Regions from separate parts of the Homo sapiens genome. Here region 1 is linked to region 2. The links come from fine-mapping of genetic effects on gene expression. Tissue or cell type: stomach. Region 2 holds a variant in brackets; the other region holds the start of a gene. All regions are shown on one strand. Distances are from middle to middle. Region 1 holds the start of GPR160 (G protein-coupled receptor 160). Region 2 has its middle 24 kb from the start of GPR160.

The links. PIP is the estimated chance that this variant, and not a neighbour inherited with it, causes the effect.
Region 1: it holds the start of GPR160, and the variant in region 2 is fine-mapped to the expression of GPR160 in stomach (GTEx, PIP above 0.99).

What each region holds. Positions count from the first base shown.
Region 1 is chr3:170,034,201-170,043,040 of GRCh38, forward strand. GPR160 (G protein-coupled receptor 160) reads left to right here and starts at 3,795. Exons shown (of 4, transcript NM_014373.3): 1 at 3,795-4,015; 2 at 4,715-4,843. RefSeq lists silencers at 3,770-4,249, 4,560-4,609, 4,770-4,819 and an enhancer at 4,675-5,174.
Region 2 is chr3:170,009,104-170,017,943 of GRCh38, forward strand. No RefSeq gene overlaps it. Among named protein-coding and RNA genes, the nearest start is that of GPR160, 24 kb to the right of the region's middle. The variant G/A (reference allele first, on the strand shown) is at 5,192.

The DNA of each region.
Region 1 (8,840 bases), 25 kb after region 2:
CTACTACACACCTAAGTTATATGGTATAGCCTATTGCTTCTAGGCTGCAAACTTCCACAGCATGTGACTGTACTGAATACTGTAGGCAACTGTACTGAATACTGTAGACAACGGTAAGAATTTATGTCTCTAAACATAGAAGAGGCACAGTAAAAATACAATATAAAAGATAAAAACGGTATACCCGTATAGAGCACTTACCATGAATGGAGCTTGCAGGGCTGGAAGTTGCTGTGGGTGAGTGAATGAAAAGGCCTAGGATATTACTGTCCACTACCGCAGACTTTATAAACACTACATTTAGGCTACACTAACAATAAGTTAATCTTGGCTTACTGTAACTTTTTTACTTTGTAAACTTTAAATTTTTTTTTAACTTTTTGACTCTTTTGTAATAATACGCCTTAAAACACAAATACGTTTCAGCTGTACAAAAATATTTTCTTCTATTCTTATTCTATAAGCTTATTTTTCCCATTTTGAAAATGCATTTATTTACCTTTTAAACTTTTTTTCTTAAAAACAAAGGTGCAGGCCTACACAGGGTCAGTATCATCAAGATATCACTAGGTGATAGGAATTTGTCAGCTCCATTCTAACCTTGTGAGGCCACTGTTGTAGATGTGATCCATTGTTAACCAGAATGTCATTGCAGCACATGACTTTATTACAGAAGAAGGAAAGAATGGACAGTGGGGAGCAACCAAGGTCTCTGTCTGCCACAGTTCCTCCACCAGCCCCTGAGACAGAGTTCCCCTCAGGAGGAGTCTGGTATGCGGACCCATGTACACATCATCTCTAGACAGAGAGACTTCAGGGCAGTTGTTGACATCGGCTTAAGAAATGGTGGGAGAGTGGCAGGCACTTGGGGATGCTGAAAGTATTTGAAGATAAATCCAGCCTCCCAGATCCGCCTGGAGAGAGGCATTGACAGGGCAGCCTGGCTGCTCAGAGCTACCCTACCCCAGCCTTGTCACTAGCAATATGTCTCTCCTTCCTGGGTCTCAGTCTCATTTTCCTCTTCTTTTTTTTTTTTTTTTTTTTTTTTGAGACAGAGTCTCGCTCTTGTCGCCCAGGCTGGAGTGCAATGGTGTGATCTCAGCTCACTGCAACCTCCGCTTCCCAGGTTCAAGTGATTCTCCTGCCTCAGCTTCCTGAGTAGCTGGGATTACAGGCGCCCGCCACCATGCCTGGCTAATTTTTGTATTTTTAGTAGAGACGGGGTTTCACCATGTTGGCCAGGCTGGTCTCAAACTTCTGACCTCATGCAGTCTGCCCACCTCAGCCTCCCAAAGTGCTGAGATTACAGGTGTGAGCCACTGTGCCCGGCTCTCATTTTCCTCTTCTATAAAGGAGAGTAATAACCCTACCTTGCAGGGTTGGCGTGAGGCTCGTTTGAAGTTATGTATGTCCAGCTCCTGTTCTATACTATCCACTCCCTAGATGATGGTTATTTTTGTTATGAGTATGATTTGGCCCCCATGCCCTCTGCTCTAACTCAACTCCCATCCTCTCCCTCTCAGGTCTTCTGACCCACTTGCCATTCCCTTATTAGAACATGAACTCTCTGCCTGGCTTTCCACTTCCCACTTTGCACACGTTGGAATCTTGGCGGAAGCACCTCACATCCCGTTGAACCCGGTACTCCTCTGTGATTCAGTTGGCCTCTGCACTTCTCCAGGAAGTTCTCTCTGCCACTCCAGGCCAGGTGAAGCTGCTCCTCAGTCTCCCTAGCAACCCACACTTAATTCTATCAGGGTTCTTCTTGCACCCTTGGGCAATTACTGAGTTCCTTGCAAGGCTAGTCCAGACTCTCAGTGTATAAACCACCCTTGAGGTAACTAATTCCATCTTAGAAAAACCCTCCATTTTATATTTCATGGGCACTTTGCTAACAAGGATAAGATGTTTTGCTTGACGAACAAATTTTAAAAAAGAACACAAACAAGCACACTCATCCACTATAAGTTCTCACCAGAGGACCCTCTGACTGTAAAAGAGCGAAGCCTTCAGCTTGGCTGTCTTCACTAACACCGTCTTGCAGTCACTCATGATAAGAACTCAGAATTTGCCACCGAAAGCTCTGCCACATCAAAGACTCTTCCTTGCAAGACCACCAGGCCCAGACCAGGACTCCCTTTGTCTTCTTCCCTCCCTTTGGACTGGTTCATTAACCCTTTCTCCTCTTCTTCGTCTTGATGTTAAATATTACTTTGTTGTGGAATGTTTAATCTACAACATTCGTATAGTGATTAAGTATACTAGTATGTATGGTTTGCAATATTTACTGACTTATGGAGTGGCTTGAACCTATGTGCTCTGACTACAGAGTGAATGGGAAGGACTAAGGAGAATTGCCTCCTTGGGAACTCCATGTAGCTCCTGGATTTTGTGATTGAAATAGCATTTAAAAAAAAAAAAAGACTGACATTGTGGAGAGATACAAACGTGTATGGACATGGTCATCTTTAATCTCTAACTGCTATGACACTCAGAGAGGTTGAGAGGCTCAGGACACTCCCCTTGTTCAAGGCTCTGCGTGAAGAGGAGAAGGAAGAAATTGTGCAATATTTTATTTTATTTTATTTGTTTCAGATGAAGTCTGTCTCTGTTGCCCAGGCTGGAGTGTAATGGCGTGATCTTGGTTCACTGCAACCTCTGCCTCCTGGGTTCAAGTCATTCTCCTGCCTCAGCCTCCCAAGTAGCTGGGACTACAGGCATGTGCCATTACGCCCAACTAATTTTTGTATTTTTAGTAGAGGCAGGGTTTCACCATGTTGGCCAGGCTGGTCTTGAACTCGTGACCTCAAGTGATCCACCCGCCTCGGCCTCCCAAAGTGCTGGGATTACAGGCTTGAGCCACTGCGCTGGCCTAATTGTTCGATATTTTAAATGTTTAAATGACCGGCAAGTCGTAGGTGCTCAACAAATATTTGTTGAATGACAACAAATTAGCACTGTTGACACAAAAAAGGCAATGCAATATATGGGCTATTTAATATTTGCAGATTTTTATTTAAAAATCTGAATTCACAGTACACTGCAGGCGGTTGCTTAGAAGCATACAAGTTTCAAGAAGTTCTGTCACCCTGTGTATACTCTTTTTTTTTTTTTTTTTTTTTTTTTTTTTTTTTTTTGATACGGAGTCTTGCTGTTGCTGCCCAGGCTGGAGTGCAGTGGTGCGGTCTTAGCTCACTGCAACCTCCGCCTCCTGGGTTCAAGCGATTCTCGTGCCTCAGCTTCCCAAATAGCTGGGATTACAGGTGCGTGCCACCAAGCCCGGCTAATTTTTGTATTTTTAGTAGACATGGGGACCAACGTGGACCATGTTGGCCAGGCTGGTCTCAAACTCCTGACCTCAAGTGATCCGCCCACCTTGACCTCCCAAAGTGCTAGGATTACAGGCATGAGCCACCGCCTGGCCACCCTGTGTAAACTCTTATCTGGAGACAACTGCCAAGTTTACATTTGCAGAGGTAAGGGAAGGAGAGGCCCTGACCCAGTGGCCCCCGCTCGCCCGCCTGCTGGGGAGATGGGGAGCTCCTAGGACAGGGGCCGGGTCCTCAAGATGTGGCATGAGGAAGGGGGTCTCACTGAGCCCCCAAGCGGCTCCCGCACTGCGCACCCCTGGCTGCGTCCCTCTGCCAGCCTCAACTCAGCCCTCTCCTAGCCGGCGGGGGGTGACAGTCTCTGTGATATCTTTCCGTCCCGCCGGCAGGCGGCGCCCTCCGGCCCTTGTTTCGTTGGGCCCGGACGGGACGTGCGCGCTCAAAGGTTGCCCGTCTCTGACGCCCGCATTTCCTGGTCTGGAGCCGGCTGAGCCACAGCAGGGTCGCCGCGGGGTCCCGGGGCCGTGCTCCCCTGCCCCTCCCGGGAGCGCGCGGGGCGGGGCGGGGCGGGGCGGGACCAGGCGGGCGAGCTGGGCCCTCGCCCCTCCCTCGGGCGGTCACCTGGGCACGGGCGCTGCAGGTGTCGGGGCCTCAACCTTGCGGAGCCGACAGCCATCGATCCTCGGGTGAGTGCGGGCGCAGGTGGAGGGCGCCCGGCGCTCTCGCCACCGGCGTCCCAGCCTCGGGGCGGCGAACGGTCCCCGCGCCGCTCCCAGCCTCCCTGGCCGGGCGTTCAGCGCGCCTGGGAGGGGAAGGAATTTCCTTTGCAGGAACTCAGGGGCTGGGGGTTCTCTGCTACTTAAGAGATCCAGGAGTGGAGCCCGGACGCCCGAGCCTTCCTGCTTCGGGATGGGGATTACCGCGGAGCCTTAGCAACTGGGGTCTGTCGTGGGTTTGAGGGCAGGGGGTCTGGGGAATGGGCGTGTCCCGCACCCAGAGACTCGCCACCCTCTCTCCAGGGGAGATGCTTTTTAAACATGACAAACCCAGCAAGGTTATAGAAATGGGTGTATGCAACTCTTCGCTCTTTCCTGGCGCCCAGAGGTGAATAGTCTCACACACACGCGCGCGCGCGCGCGTGCGTGCATTCATTGGGGCCGACTTTGCCTCCCCTCCCCTGGCCTCGAGCGTTGGGGACGGCGCCCCCGCCCGCGCCCGCCACTGGGATTAAGCCCCAGGGCCTTGCCCGGCTATTTGTTTTCCGAGGCCGTTGCGTCCGGGTAGGTTCCTGGATGACCATCCTGGCTGGCTCAAAATTCCCTCTAGATTACCTGCGACCACCCCCAGGAACCCGGAGACTGAAACTCCTTTTCTCACCTGCGCAGGTGGCCTCGAGGTGGTGGCAGGGCCGCCCCCTGCAGTCCGGAGACGAACGCACGGACCGGGCCTCCGGAGGCAGGTTCGGCTGGAAGGAACCGCTCTCGCTTCGTCCTACACTTGCGCAAATGTCTCCGGTAAGGGGAAGTGTCGCTTAAATCCCAGAGATAACCCCCACCGAGAAGCATCACAAAAGACATGAACGAGTGTTTAGCTCTCAGGATTGTTATTGCTTCGAGTGAAATGGTTTCTTGTGTGCTTTTGTGCATTTATATATAAATATAAACATATATGTATACATTTGACAAGCTCTAAGACCGGCACTTGTGATATCTCCAGAATAGAGTTATTATAGTTATTTGGAAATTGTCAGTGAGGATCAGCTTGGTTGCTATGCGAATTGCAGGGAGGAGGACCTGTGTGCAGTTTCAAAACGATTTAAGAGAAATTCGGTGGCAATACAAGGTGTGGACGTTGGTTGGATCCTGATTTGATGAATGTTTTTTAAAATGGAGATGATGCCCGAGTGCGGTGGCTCACACCTGTAATCCCAGCACTTTGGGAGGCCGAGGTGGGTGGATCACCTGAGGTCAGGGGTTCGAGACCAGCCTGGCCAACATGGTGAAACCCTTCTCTACTAAAAATACAAAAATTAGCTGGGTGTGGTGACACGCGCCTGTAATCCCGGCTACTCGGGAAGGCTGAGGTAGGAGAATCGCTTGAACCCGGGAGGCGGAGGTTGCAGTAAGCCGAGATGGCGCCACTGCACTCCAGCCTGGGAGGCAGAGCGAGACTCCGTCTCAAAATAAATAAATAAATAAGGAGACGATGAAGGACATTTCTACTGATTATTTGATGGTATCAAGGAAATTATAATAGTTCTGTTTAGTTACTTTTGGTAACGGTATCCTGATTAAGGTTTTTAAAATCCCTGTAGAGACACAGACTGAAGTTGAAATACAGCTTTGGGATTTGCTTCAGAATTATTCAGTTTTAGATGCTAGCAGAGAAGGGAGGGGAACAAGATGAGAGGAGATTGTTCATGGATTGTTAATAGTTGAAGCTGGGAAGAACACATGGACACAGGCAGGGGAACTTCAGGCACGGGGGCCTGTCGGAGGGTGGGGGGAAAGGGGAGGGAGAGCACTAGGACAAATACCTAATGCATGCAGGGCTTAAAACCTAGATGACGGGTTGATAGGTGCAGCAAAACACCATGGCACATGTATACCTATTAACAAACCTGCACATTCAGCACCTGTATCCCAGAACTTAAAGTAAAACAAAAATAAAAATAGTTGAAGCTGGATGATGGTTATGGAAGTCCTTATGCTATTGTTTCAGTATTTGTGTGTGTTTGGCATTTTCCTTTAAACAGAACACCACCACTTGTGGAGCTTTTTTGCATAAGGTAGGTTTGGCACTGCAGCCGAGTCTAGATGCAAGGTCTTCCGCAGACGCTCGTTCTTTGTAAATTGGGTGTCAAGGCTGCTTCTCCAGACTCGGTCATAAAAAGTTTTTTTCTCCCTACTGGAGGTGCCGATTTATTTTGCTCAGAAGGCAGAGGGTGTTTGCTGAGTGTGACAAAGCTGAGCGGATCAAGTTGATGCAGGTGGAGGCTAGGTCAGCTTTTTTTACACAAAGGGCATTAGCAAGCCTGGGGGTTGATTGCCTCCGGTCGGGCGGATTGTATAAAACGTGTTAGCAGTTTTTCCTAATTGCCCAAATCCCTTCCAAGTTGTGTTCATCAAAAAACAGAGTTTGCAGTAGTGAACACACGTGTCGGTATGCACTTAGGATTTATGTACACTTCTGAAAGCATTGCATGCCTCAGTAAAAAGTGTATATGATGAAAACAAAGCACAAGATGAGTAGAGGGCTGCTTATTGCTTGAGAGAGAGCTTAGCTGTGTTGTGTTGCCTATTTCATCTTTATCTTGTTTGCTTCAGCGATCATGACATGTAAATATTTAGCAAAGCACTGACTCCTAAAAGTTCTGCATGGTGGTAACACATTTTTTTTAAGAATCATGCTTGAAAGAGGGTAAGGAAGGAGTAATAGCTATATCTTCATCAGGCTTGCTCCAGATTTCTTTTCTCCAGATTTAGCCTATAATTCCTACTCATTCTGTCATGCTTGGTCAGTACTTTGGAATAGTGATTCTGAGAGGGAGCTGTTGAAGTTAGTAGAGGGAGGAAGGGGAGGTATATTTCCAAAAGGTAAATCCACATTTTTTAGTCGCTTCAGTATAACTGAATGTAATGCCTTTTGATTTAAAGATAAAACAAGTCAAAGAGATGAGATCTGGGACAGTTAAAAGTTGAAGTGTTCGGTGAATCTCCCCGGCGTAGACCTTGCTCGTGTAGATTCACTAGTCTAAAGGATGTAAAGATTTTTTTTTTTTTTTTTTTTTGAGACGGAGTCTTGCTCTGTCACCCAGGCTGGAGTGCAGTGGCGTGATCTCGGCTCACTGCAAGCTCCACCTCCCGGGTTCACGCCATTCTCCTGCCTCAGCCTCCCGAGCAGCTGGGACTACAGGCGCCCGCCACCACGCCCGGCTAATTTTTAGTAGAGACGGGGTTTCACCGTGGTCTCCATCTGTTGACCTCGTGATCTGCCCGCCTCAGCCTCCCAAAGTGTTGGGATTACAGGCGTGAGCCATCGCGCCCGGCCGTAAAGATGTTTTAAGATTCGGTTGAGGAATGCTGAAGCATGTCCTAATTTCACTGCTGTGATGGGAAAATAATGAGACAACCAACAAAAATCCCCTTACAGTGGGGGGAGATACCACAGTGAATTCATGATGGTTCTTAAATGAAGTGAAATTGTTTGGTTTGTGGCTCTGTTTTCTTGGTATGAATGAAAGAAGTATGCAACCGTCACGTAACTTTATTTTATACCTCAGTTTCCTCTCTAGTTCCCTAAAAGCATGGAAAGAGAAAAGAAACTTGCCAGGCCCTTTAGTGACCAAACTAATGTTTACTCTCCTCTGTAGGAGAGTGGTAGATTTGGACTCTGGAGAGTTGATTGCTAATAGCCATTTTAAGGACTTACCACAAATGTGACACCATTTCGCCCTGATTCACATTATTAAGGGTATGAACGCATTAGAAAAGCAAATGGCTCCCTTGTTGGGCTAGAAATGATAGGAAAGAGTGTTGGCAATCTAGTCAACAGTATTCTCCTAGATTCATAAACACTTCGCTTTCATCTGCATCACCTCATCCCATCCTGTGAGGCGAAGCAGTGGTGATAGAGGGCAATTTTGGTTTTTAACAGATGGGAACATTGAAATATAAGGAAATCAGCCTGGGCAACATAGTGAGACCTTGACTCCACAAAAAATAAAGATAAATAAATAAAAATTAGCCAGGTATGGTGGTGCACGCCTGTAGTCCCAGCTACTCAGGAGGTTGAGGTGGGAGGATTGCTTGAGCCTGGGAGGTTGAGGCTGCAGTGAGCCGTGATCATACCACTGTACTCCAGCCTGGGTGACAGAGCAAGATACTGCCTCAAAAAAAAAAAAAAAAGAAAGAAAGAAATCTAAAGAAGATTGCTTTAAATCACATCTTTAGGGAGACAGGGAAGGAAATTTAACATTTATCAAGAGTTCATTGGCCAAAGAAAAGAGTTCATGGGCTGGGTGTGGTGGCTCGCATCTGTAATCCCAGCTCTTTGGGAGGCTGAGGGGAGGAAGGTTTGCTTGAGGCCAAGAGTTCAAGACCAGCCTGGGCAACATAGTGAGGCCCCCATCTCTACAAAAAAAAAAAATAAATAAATAATAATAATAATAATAAAATTGGCCAGTGTGGTGGTGGCTGAGGTGGGGAGGGTGGCTTGAGCCCAGCAGTTCTAGGCTGCAGTAAGCTATGTTTGCACCATTGCACACCAGCCTGGACGATAGGGCAAGACTCTCTCTCTTAAAAAAAAAAAAAAAAAAAAAGAATTCATGGTAGTCTTCTGGTAGTCTTCACACACTTTTTTTTTTTTTTTGAGATGGAGTCTCGCTCTGCCACCCAGGCTGGAGTGCAATGGTGCAATCTCAGCTCACTGCAAGCTCTGCCTCCCGGATTCATGCCATTCTCCTGCCTCAGCCTCCCCAGTAGCTGGGACTACAGGTGCCCACCACCACGC
Region 2 (8,840 bases):
GCCCTGTTTGGAGGTAGAATGGAGAAAGTGTAAAGGGATCTGTCTTTGGGTTAACAGCAGGAAATCAGCAGAACTTCAAAGCTGATAATAATCAGAAGCTTGGGAACTTGAAGGACTGTTCCCAAGATGGAACAGCAGATTCAGGTTTAGGCAACAGGAGAATGTCACTATCAGCTAAAAGCAACTGGAAAAGTGGATCTCCAGAAGTGGAGAGCTGAGGGAAAATCAGAACAAATGTCTCAAATCTCTCTCACCCCCTTTAATTTTCAAAAACTATAAATTAAAACAATAAGATGACTTGAAGTGACTGCCTTGAAATCTAATAAGCAGATGTATTAGCTGCCTTTCCAGAAATGTTTGGGTGGAAAAAAAATTATTTGAATCGAATTTTGTGCTTTGAATAAATTTAAAGGATTACACATCAATTTTAGCCTTTGTAAAAACAATACTGTGTAACAAATCACTCACAATTCAGTGGCTTTTTAAAAATCCAAGCTCGGCCGGGCACGGTGGCTCACGCCTGTTATCCCAGCACTTTGGGAGGCCAAGGCGGGCAGATCAGTTGAGGTCAGGAATTCAAGACCAGCCTATCCAACACGGTGAAAACCCATCTCTACTAAAAATACAAAAATTAGCCGGGCATGGTGGTACATGCCTGTAATCTCAGCTACTTGGGAGGCTGAGGCGGAAGAATTGCTTGAACCTGGGAGGCGGAGCTTGGAGTGAGCCGAGATCTTGCCACCGCACTCCCGTCTGGGCAACAGAGCGAGACTCCGTCTCAAAAATAAAAATAAAAACTAAAAACCCAACCTAAACCTCCGATTTGGCAATGAATTTTAGATACAACACAAAAGCACAATCCACAAAAGAAAAAATTGTTAAGCTGGACTTCCTTAACAGTAAAAACTTATAACTAATCGTAGTGGCTCATGCCTGTAATCCCAGCACTTGATCTCTCAGAAGCAAGAGGATCACTTGAGACTAGGAGTTCGGCACCAGCCTCGCCAACATAACAAGATCCAATCTCTACCAAAAAAACAAAAACAAGCAAACAAAAAACTCTTATCCTCTGCAAAAGAGTATGAAAACACAAGCCACAGACCAGGAGAAAATATTTGCTGAGCACCTCTCTGATAAAGGATTTGTATTTAAAATATACATAGAACTCACAAAATTTAATAAGATATGAAACAACCCAATATAAAAATGGGCAAAAGAAACGAACAGATACATCAACAAAGAAGACACACAGATGAAAAAAAAACTATGAAAAGATGCTCTACATCATATGTCATTAAGGAACTGCAAATTAAAACAGTGAGATACCACTACATACCTATTAGAATGGCCAAAATAACCTACGGCCATGCCACCCTGAACATTCCCCATCTTGCCTAGAATGGCCAAAATCCAAAGCACTGACAACACCAAATCCTGGAAAGGATGGGAAACGGCAGGAACTCTTATTTATTGCTAGTGGAGACACAAAATAGTATAGCCACTTTGGAAGACAGTTTGATGGCTTTTTGTTTTGTTTTGAGACAGGGTCTCACTCTGTTACCCAAGCTAAAGTGCAGTGGTGCGATCATGGCTCACTGTAGCTGAAACCTCCCAGGCTCAAGCAATTCTCCCACTCAGCCTCCTGAGTAGCTGGGACCACAGGTGTGCACCATCACATGTGGCTAATATTTTTTTGAGACAGAGTCTCACTCTGTTGCCCAGGCTGGAGGACAGTGGCACGACCTAGGCTCACTGCAACCTCCACCTCCGGGGCTCAAGCTATTCTCTTGCCTCAGCCTCCCTAGTAGCTGGGATTGCAGGTGCACACCACCACGCCTGGCTAATTTTTATATTTTTAGTAGAGACGGTGTTTCACCATGTTGGCCAAGCTGGTCTTGAACTCCTGACCTCAGGTGATCAGCCCACCTCAGCCTCCCAAAGTGCTGGGACTACAATGAGTTAGCCACCGCTCCTGCTCACACCTGGCTAATTTAAAATTTTTGTGTGTGTGTGGAGAAGAGGTCTCCTTATGTTGCCCAGGCTGGTCTCAAACTCCTGGGTTCAAGCAATCCTCCCACCTTTGCCTCACAAAGTGCTAGTATTACAGGTGTGAGCCAGCACACCTGGCTACAGTTTCTTAACAGATGGAAAAATGAATCCACACAAAGGGAAAAAGAGCATCAAAAATGGCATTGGGGCCAGGCGCCATGGCTCACACCTGTAATCCCAGCACTCTGGGAGGCCAAGGTGGCCTCGGATCACCTGAGGTCAGGAGTTCAAGACCAGTCTGGCCAACATGATGAAACCCTGTCTCTACAAAAAATATAAAAAGATTAGCTAGGCGTGGTGGCGTGTACCTATAAGACCAGCTACTCAGGAGGCTGAGGCAGGAGGATTGCTTGAACCAGGGAGGCAGAGGTTGCAGTGAGCTGAGATCACACCATTGCACTCAAGTTTGGGAAACAGAGCACGACTCCATCTCCAAAAAAAAAAAAAAAATGGCATCAATTTTCAACTTGTGATGGGGGATTTCCTGATTGTCTCTTTCCAGAATATCTTTAAGGTCAAAATATTTTCGTAATAATACTGATGTTGTTGCCTTTTCACTCTCATTCTCTCACAAGCATAAGTGGAGTTTTCCAGTGTGATATGGGAACAGATTGAATGCGGAGGCAGACATGAGAATCTAGCTTTCTTCTATTCATCCAGATATTCAACAGATTTGTTAAAAATGTAAAACAGCCACTCATCTCACAAACATTTTCTTTCTGAAAAAGTTATTTTTCATAGACATGTTATTTCTGTTAATGTGTCCTCTTTTATTATTGTTTCTAAAAATTTATGTTTTAATCTTTCTTTTATTTTGAGACTAGGTCTCACTCTGTTGCTCAGGCTGGAGTACAGTGCATGATCATAGTTCACTCTAACTCGAACTCCTGGGCTCGAGGGATTCTCCTGTCTCAGCTTCCTGAGTAGCGTGGACTACAGGCATGTGCCACCACACTCAGCTAATTAAATTTTTCGTAGAAACAGGGTCTCGCTATGTGGCCTAGGCTGGGCTCAAACTCCTGGCCTCAAACAATCCTCCCACCTCAGCTTCCCAGAGCTCTGGGATTACAGGGTGAGCCACTGCCTGTTTTAATTTCTTTTCTTTTTTTTTTTTTTTTTTTTTTTTTGAGACGGAGTCTTTCTCTGTCACCCAGGCAGGAGTGCAGTGGCGTGATCTCGGCTCACTGAAACCTCCGCCTCCCAGGCTCAAGCTATTCTCCTGCCTCAGCCTCCCGAGTAGCTGGGATTATAGGCACCACGTACCACCACACTAGGTTAATTTTTGTATTTTTAGTAGAGATGGGGTTTCATCATGTTGGTCAGGCTGGTCTCGAAATCCTGACCTCGTGATCCGCCCACCTCAGCCCCCCGAAGTGCCAGGATTACCGGCATGAGCCACCACGCTTAGCTGCCTGTTTTAATTTCTAACCGCAGCAAATAATCCACACCAACAGGACTCTTTGGCATTCTCAATAATTTTTAAAAGTAGTTAAAAGGTCCTGAGCCCAAAACGTGTGAGAGTTGTTGTTCTAGAGTAACTAGCATTGAAAGTTCTTTCACAAAGCTGACTGCAAATAAGGAAGATTTGGTGACACATAGAACCAGGTGGTAAAAATACAGGATGAGGGAAGGGCTTTCGAAATGGAGGCAAACAGAATAGGATCAGAAAATCTGAGCTGGAGATTAGTACAAAAGGGAGGAGGGACTAAATCTTTTATTGTGTCTGGGGTGTAGATCATTTACCTGCTCACTGTAGACTCGTGCCTGACAAATATAATTGCCTGGCAACCTCGGCTATTAGTTGTTTGAGACAGAGATATGATTGTAGATTCTGGCTGTATGTAATAATAATACCTCTTAAATTGCATCTGGCACTTAGGGACGCTGTCTAAATCCCTTGTGGCATCATTATTCATAGTTGCCTTCTGTGTTCATTTTACTTATAAAGAAATTGAAAACTCAGAAAAGAGTGTGTGGCTTTGGATTTAGGTAGCCCCGGATTAAAAATCCTGCCTAATGCTGGCTTCATCCGCTGTGTGAGAAGGTAACCATTTCAAGCCTGCACTGCTGAAGGAAGCACCAGTGTTCTGGCAACACCTCCTGTGTCCTGACTTTGGCTTTGGTTCTCACAGTGTGGTTTCCTCTGTTCTTTCCCACCGTTTGAGCCTGATTCTCCAGCTTTTCCAGTAAGTCTTGGGGCCACTGAAACTTTTACAATAAATTCATTTTCTTTTTACAGCAATGAATGAGGGTTCCAATTTCTCCATGTCCTCATGAACACTTGTTATTAACCATCTTTTTTTATTATAGTCATGCATTGCATAATGACATTTTGGTAAATGATGGACCTCACATATGATGGTGGTCCCATAAGACTATAATGGAGCTGAAAATTTCCTATTGCCTAGTGATGTCATAGCCATCATAATGTGGTAGTGCAATACATTACTCACGTGTTTGTGGGGATGCTGGTGTAAACAAACCTGTGCTCCCAGTCATATAAAAGTGTAACACGTGCTGAGCGCTGTGGCTCACACCTGTAATCCTAGCACTTTGGGAGGCCGAGGCAGGCGGATCACCTGAGGTCAGGAGTTCGAGACCAGCCTGGACCAACATGGCGAAACCCCGTCTCTACTAACCTACAAAAATTAGCCTGGCATGGTGGTGGGCCCCTGTAATCCCAGTTACTCGGGAGGCTGAAGCAGGGAGAACTGCTTGAACCCAGGAGGCGGAGGTTGCAGTGAGCCAAGATGGCGCCACTGCACTCCAATCTGGGCAACAGAGAGAGACTCTGTCTCAAAAAAAAAAAAGTGTAACACATAAATTATGTATAGTACATAACACTTGATAATAAATGACTATGTTTCTGGTTTATGTATTTGCTATCCTATACTTTTTATCATTATTTTAGACTGTACTCCTGCTACTTATATATTTTTTAAAATTAACTGTGGAACAGCCTCAGGCAGGTCCTACAGGAGGTATTCCGGAAGAAGTCATTCTTATCATGGGAGATGACAGCTCCATGGATGTTTTTGCCCCTGAAGACCTTCCAGTGGGACAAGATGTGGAGGTGGAAGACAGTGACACTGATGATCCCGGCCCTGGGTAGGCCTAGGCTAATGTGTGCGTTTGTGTCTTT[G/A]TTTTTAACAAAAAAACTTTAAAAGTTTAAACAATTGAAAATAAAAAGAGAAAAAAGCTTACAGAATAAGGATATAAAGAAAGAAAATAGGCCGGGGGCAGTGGCTCACGCCTGTAATCCCAGCACTTTGGGAGGCCGAGGCAGGCGGATCACAAGGTCAGGAGTTCAAGACCAGCCTGACCAACATGGTGAAACCCCGACTGTACTAAAAATACAAAAATTAGCCAGGCGTGGTGGTGCACGTCTGTAATCCCAGCTACTTGGGAGGCTGAGGCAAGAGAATCGCTTGAACCTGGGAGGTGGAGGTCGTAGTGAGCCAAGATCATGCTTCTGCACTCCAGCCTGGGTGACAGAGAGAGAGACTCCATCTCAAAAAAAAAAAGAAAATATTTTTGTACGATAGTACAATGTCTTTGTGTCTTAAGCTAAGTGTTATTACAAGAGTCAAAAACACTTAAAAATTTTTTAAGTTTATAAAATAAAAGCTACAGTAAGCTAAGGTTAATTCATTATTGAACAAAGATAGTTCTTTATAAATTTAATATAGCCTAAATGTACAGTGTTTATAACGTCTACAGGAGTAGTGTACGGTGATGTCCTAGGCCTTCACATTCACTCACCGCTCACTCACTGATACCCACAGCAACTTCCAGTCCTGCAGGCTCCATTCACGGCAAGTGCCCCATATAAGTGTACTATTTTTTATCTTTTATACCATATTTTTATTGTATCTCTTCTATGTCTAGACCCACAAATACTGACCATTGTGTTACAATTGCCTATGGTATTCAGTACAGTAACATGAGGTACAGGCTTGTAGCCTAAAAGCAATAGGCTCTACCGTATAGCCTAGGTGTGTAGTAGGTTACAGTAGGTTTGTGTAAGTGCACTTGATAATGTTCACAAGACAAAATCACCAAATGACTCATTTTTCTCAATGTATCCCCATCGTTAAGCGATGCATAACTGTATGGTCATTCTAGTCAGGGTTGATTTCCACCATTTGCAGCTAAGATAACTGTGGCTAATCTCAAAATCAATTGAATAATAAATGTTTCATGGAAAGCCCTCATATATAATCCTTCAACTTTCAAGTTTAGGGATTACTTTTGACTTATATGAAGACAGACCAACAAGAAGTCAGTATTGTATAAGCCCAGAAGGCAAGGACACTTGCCCATAAGCCATAGAGAACTTTCTACACTTTTGGAAAGGATAGCTCCTAAAAATACATGTGCCCAACTTCCAAGTGTCAACACTCGCACATCTTTGCCTGAAGGCTCTCTCTGGTTCTGAAATCTTTACACAAATCAGGCCACAAGCTCCAGGGAATCAAATATATCCCCAGAGCATTCTTCAAACCAATGATGGTTAGAAGATGGTAGATAAATACTCCAGCTCCCTCCACCCCCAGGCAGGATAAAAATTTTTTAAAAATATTTTGTCCCTCTTATTTTTATTAAGATATAATTCACATACCATAAAGCTCATACTTTTAAGGTGTACAATTCAGTGGTTTTTAGTATATTAACTAAAAATAGCTGCGCAACCATCACCACTGTTTAATTTCAGTTCATTTTCATCACTCCAAACAAAAATTCTGTACTTATTAGCAGTAATTCCCCATTCCACCCTCCCACCAGCTGCTAGCAAACATTAATCTATTTTCCATCTCTATGGATTTGCCTATTCTGGAAATTTTATATAAATTTTATATAAAACATATTGTATGGAGTCATATAATATGTGGGCTTTTATGACTGGCTTCTGTCACTTAACATAATGTTTTCAAGATTTATTCATGTTGTACCATATATCAATAATCTATTTCTTTTTATTGCTGAAATCTATTTCATTGCATGGATATACCACATTTTGTTTAACCACTCATCAGTTGATGGACACTTGGATTTTTTTTCCGCTTTTGGCTATTCTGAATAATGCTGCTGTGAATATTCATGTACGAGTTTCATGCGAATATTTTTTTCAATCTTCTTGGGTATGTAACAACTGGGAGTGGAGTTTCTGGGTCATAGGATAACTCTATGTTTAACTTTTTAAGAACTGGAAAACTGTTTTCCAAGGCAGTTATGCCAGTTTTCATTCATACCAGCAATGAATGAGAGTTCTAATTCCTTCACATTCTCACTAACATTTGTTATTATCGTCTTTTTAATTGTGGTTATCCTGGTGGGTGTGACATATCTCATTGTGGTTTTGATTTGTGTTTCCCTAATGATGAATGATGTTGAACATCTTTTCTTGTACTTACTGGCCATTTGTATATCTTCTTGGGAAAAATATCTATTCAAATCTTTACCCATTACTGTTGGGGTCTGTCTGGCAGGATAATTTTGAGTTGTACATTCTACACTGTCTGCCAGAGTTCTCCAGTGGGATTAGGATCTATTTGCTCACACTGGTGACTTGATTGATAACACATCTTTTATCTGTGCTCTCCCTTCCATACTAGTTTGCTAAGACTGCTATAACAAAGTAATACAGACTAGGTGGCTTAAACCACAGAAAGGTATTGTCTCACAGTTCTGGAAGCTGGAAGTGTGAAATTAAGACATCAGTAGAGTTGGTTTCTTCTGAGGGCTGTGAGGGAAGGAACTGTTCCATGTCTCTCATTTAGCTTCTGGTAGTTGTTTTCTGGCAATCTATGTCATTCCTTAGCAAGTAGAGAGAGTAGGAGGAATGATGTTCGCCAAAATTATGTAGATTGGGTAGGGATGCCATCTAAAATTCTGGATAAAAATTGGCCACTTCACTATTCACCTCCTCCAATGCCCACCACACATACCTCTGAAGAGTTAGAATTTTGGACTTCCCCAAACATTCCAAGCTCTCACATATCCTTATGCCTTTGCTCAGGCTATTTTTGGGCAACCATTCACAAATCTCATTCTTCCTTTAAGTTCCAGCTCAATGTCACTCCTTATTTAAGTCATTCCCAAATGAGTCTAATCATAGTAAATTCCAGAACCTGTGTGGAAGCTATAAGTCCAGATAGGCTACCACCACGTGAAGCCTGAGAATGAAGCCAACATGAAGAAGGACAGAGAAGAGAGATTGAGAGAAGCCAAATTCTGGGGACATCATTTGAATTGAATCTCTGGGTTAAACTACACCAACCCGTGCCGATCCCTTGATAGTTCTGTGTCACGTGCCACAGTATCATATGTCTCGATAGTTCCGTGTCAAGTGTAGAGACAACAGGATTGCCTTAGGAATATATTCTAAACTCATATAGAGTCTGCTTTTTTTTTGAGATGGAGTCTTGGGCCGGGCGTGGCTCACGCCTGTAATCCCAGCACTTTGGGAGGCCGAGGCAGGCAGATTACCTGAGGCTGGGAGTTCGAGACCAGCCTGACCAACATGGAGAAACCCTGTCTCTACTAAAAACACAAAATTAGCCGGGCATTGTGGCACATGCCTGTAATCCCAGCTACTTGAGAGGCTGAGGCGGGAGAATGGCGTGAACCCGGGAAGCGGAGCTTGCAGTGAGCCGAGATAGCGCCACTGTACTCCAGCCTGGGCGTCAGAGTGAGACTCCACCTCAAAAAAAAAAAAAAAAAAAAAGACGGAGTCTCACTCTGTTGTCCAGGCTGGAGTGCAATGGCACGATCTCAGCTCACTACAACCT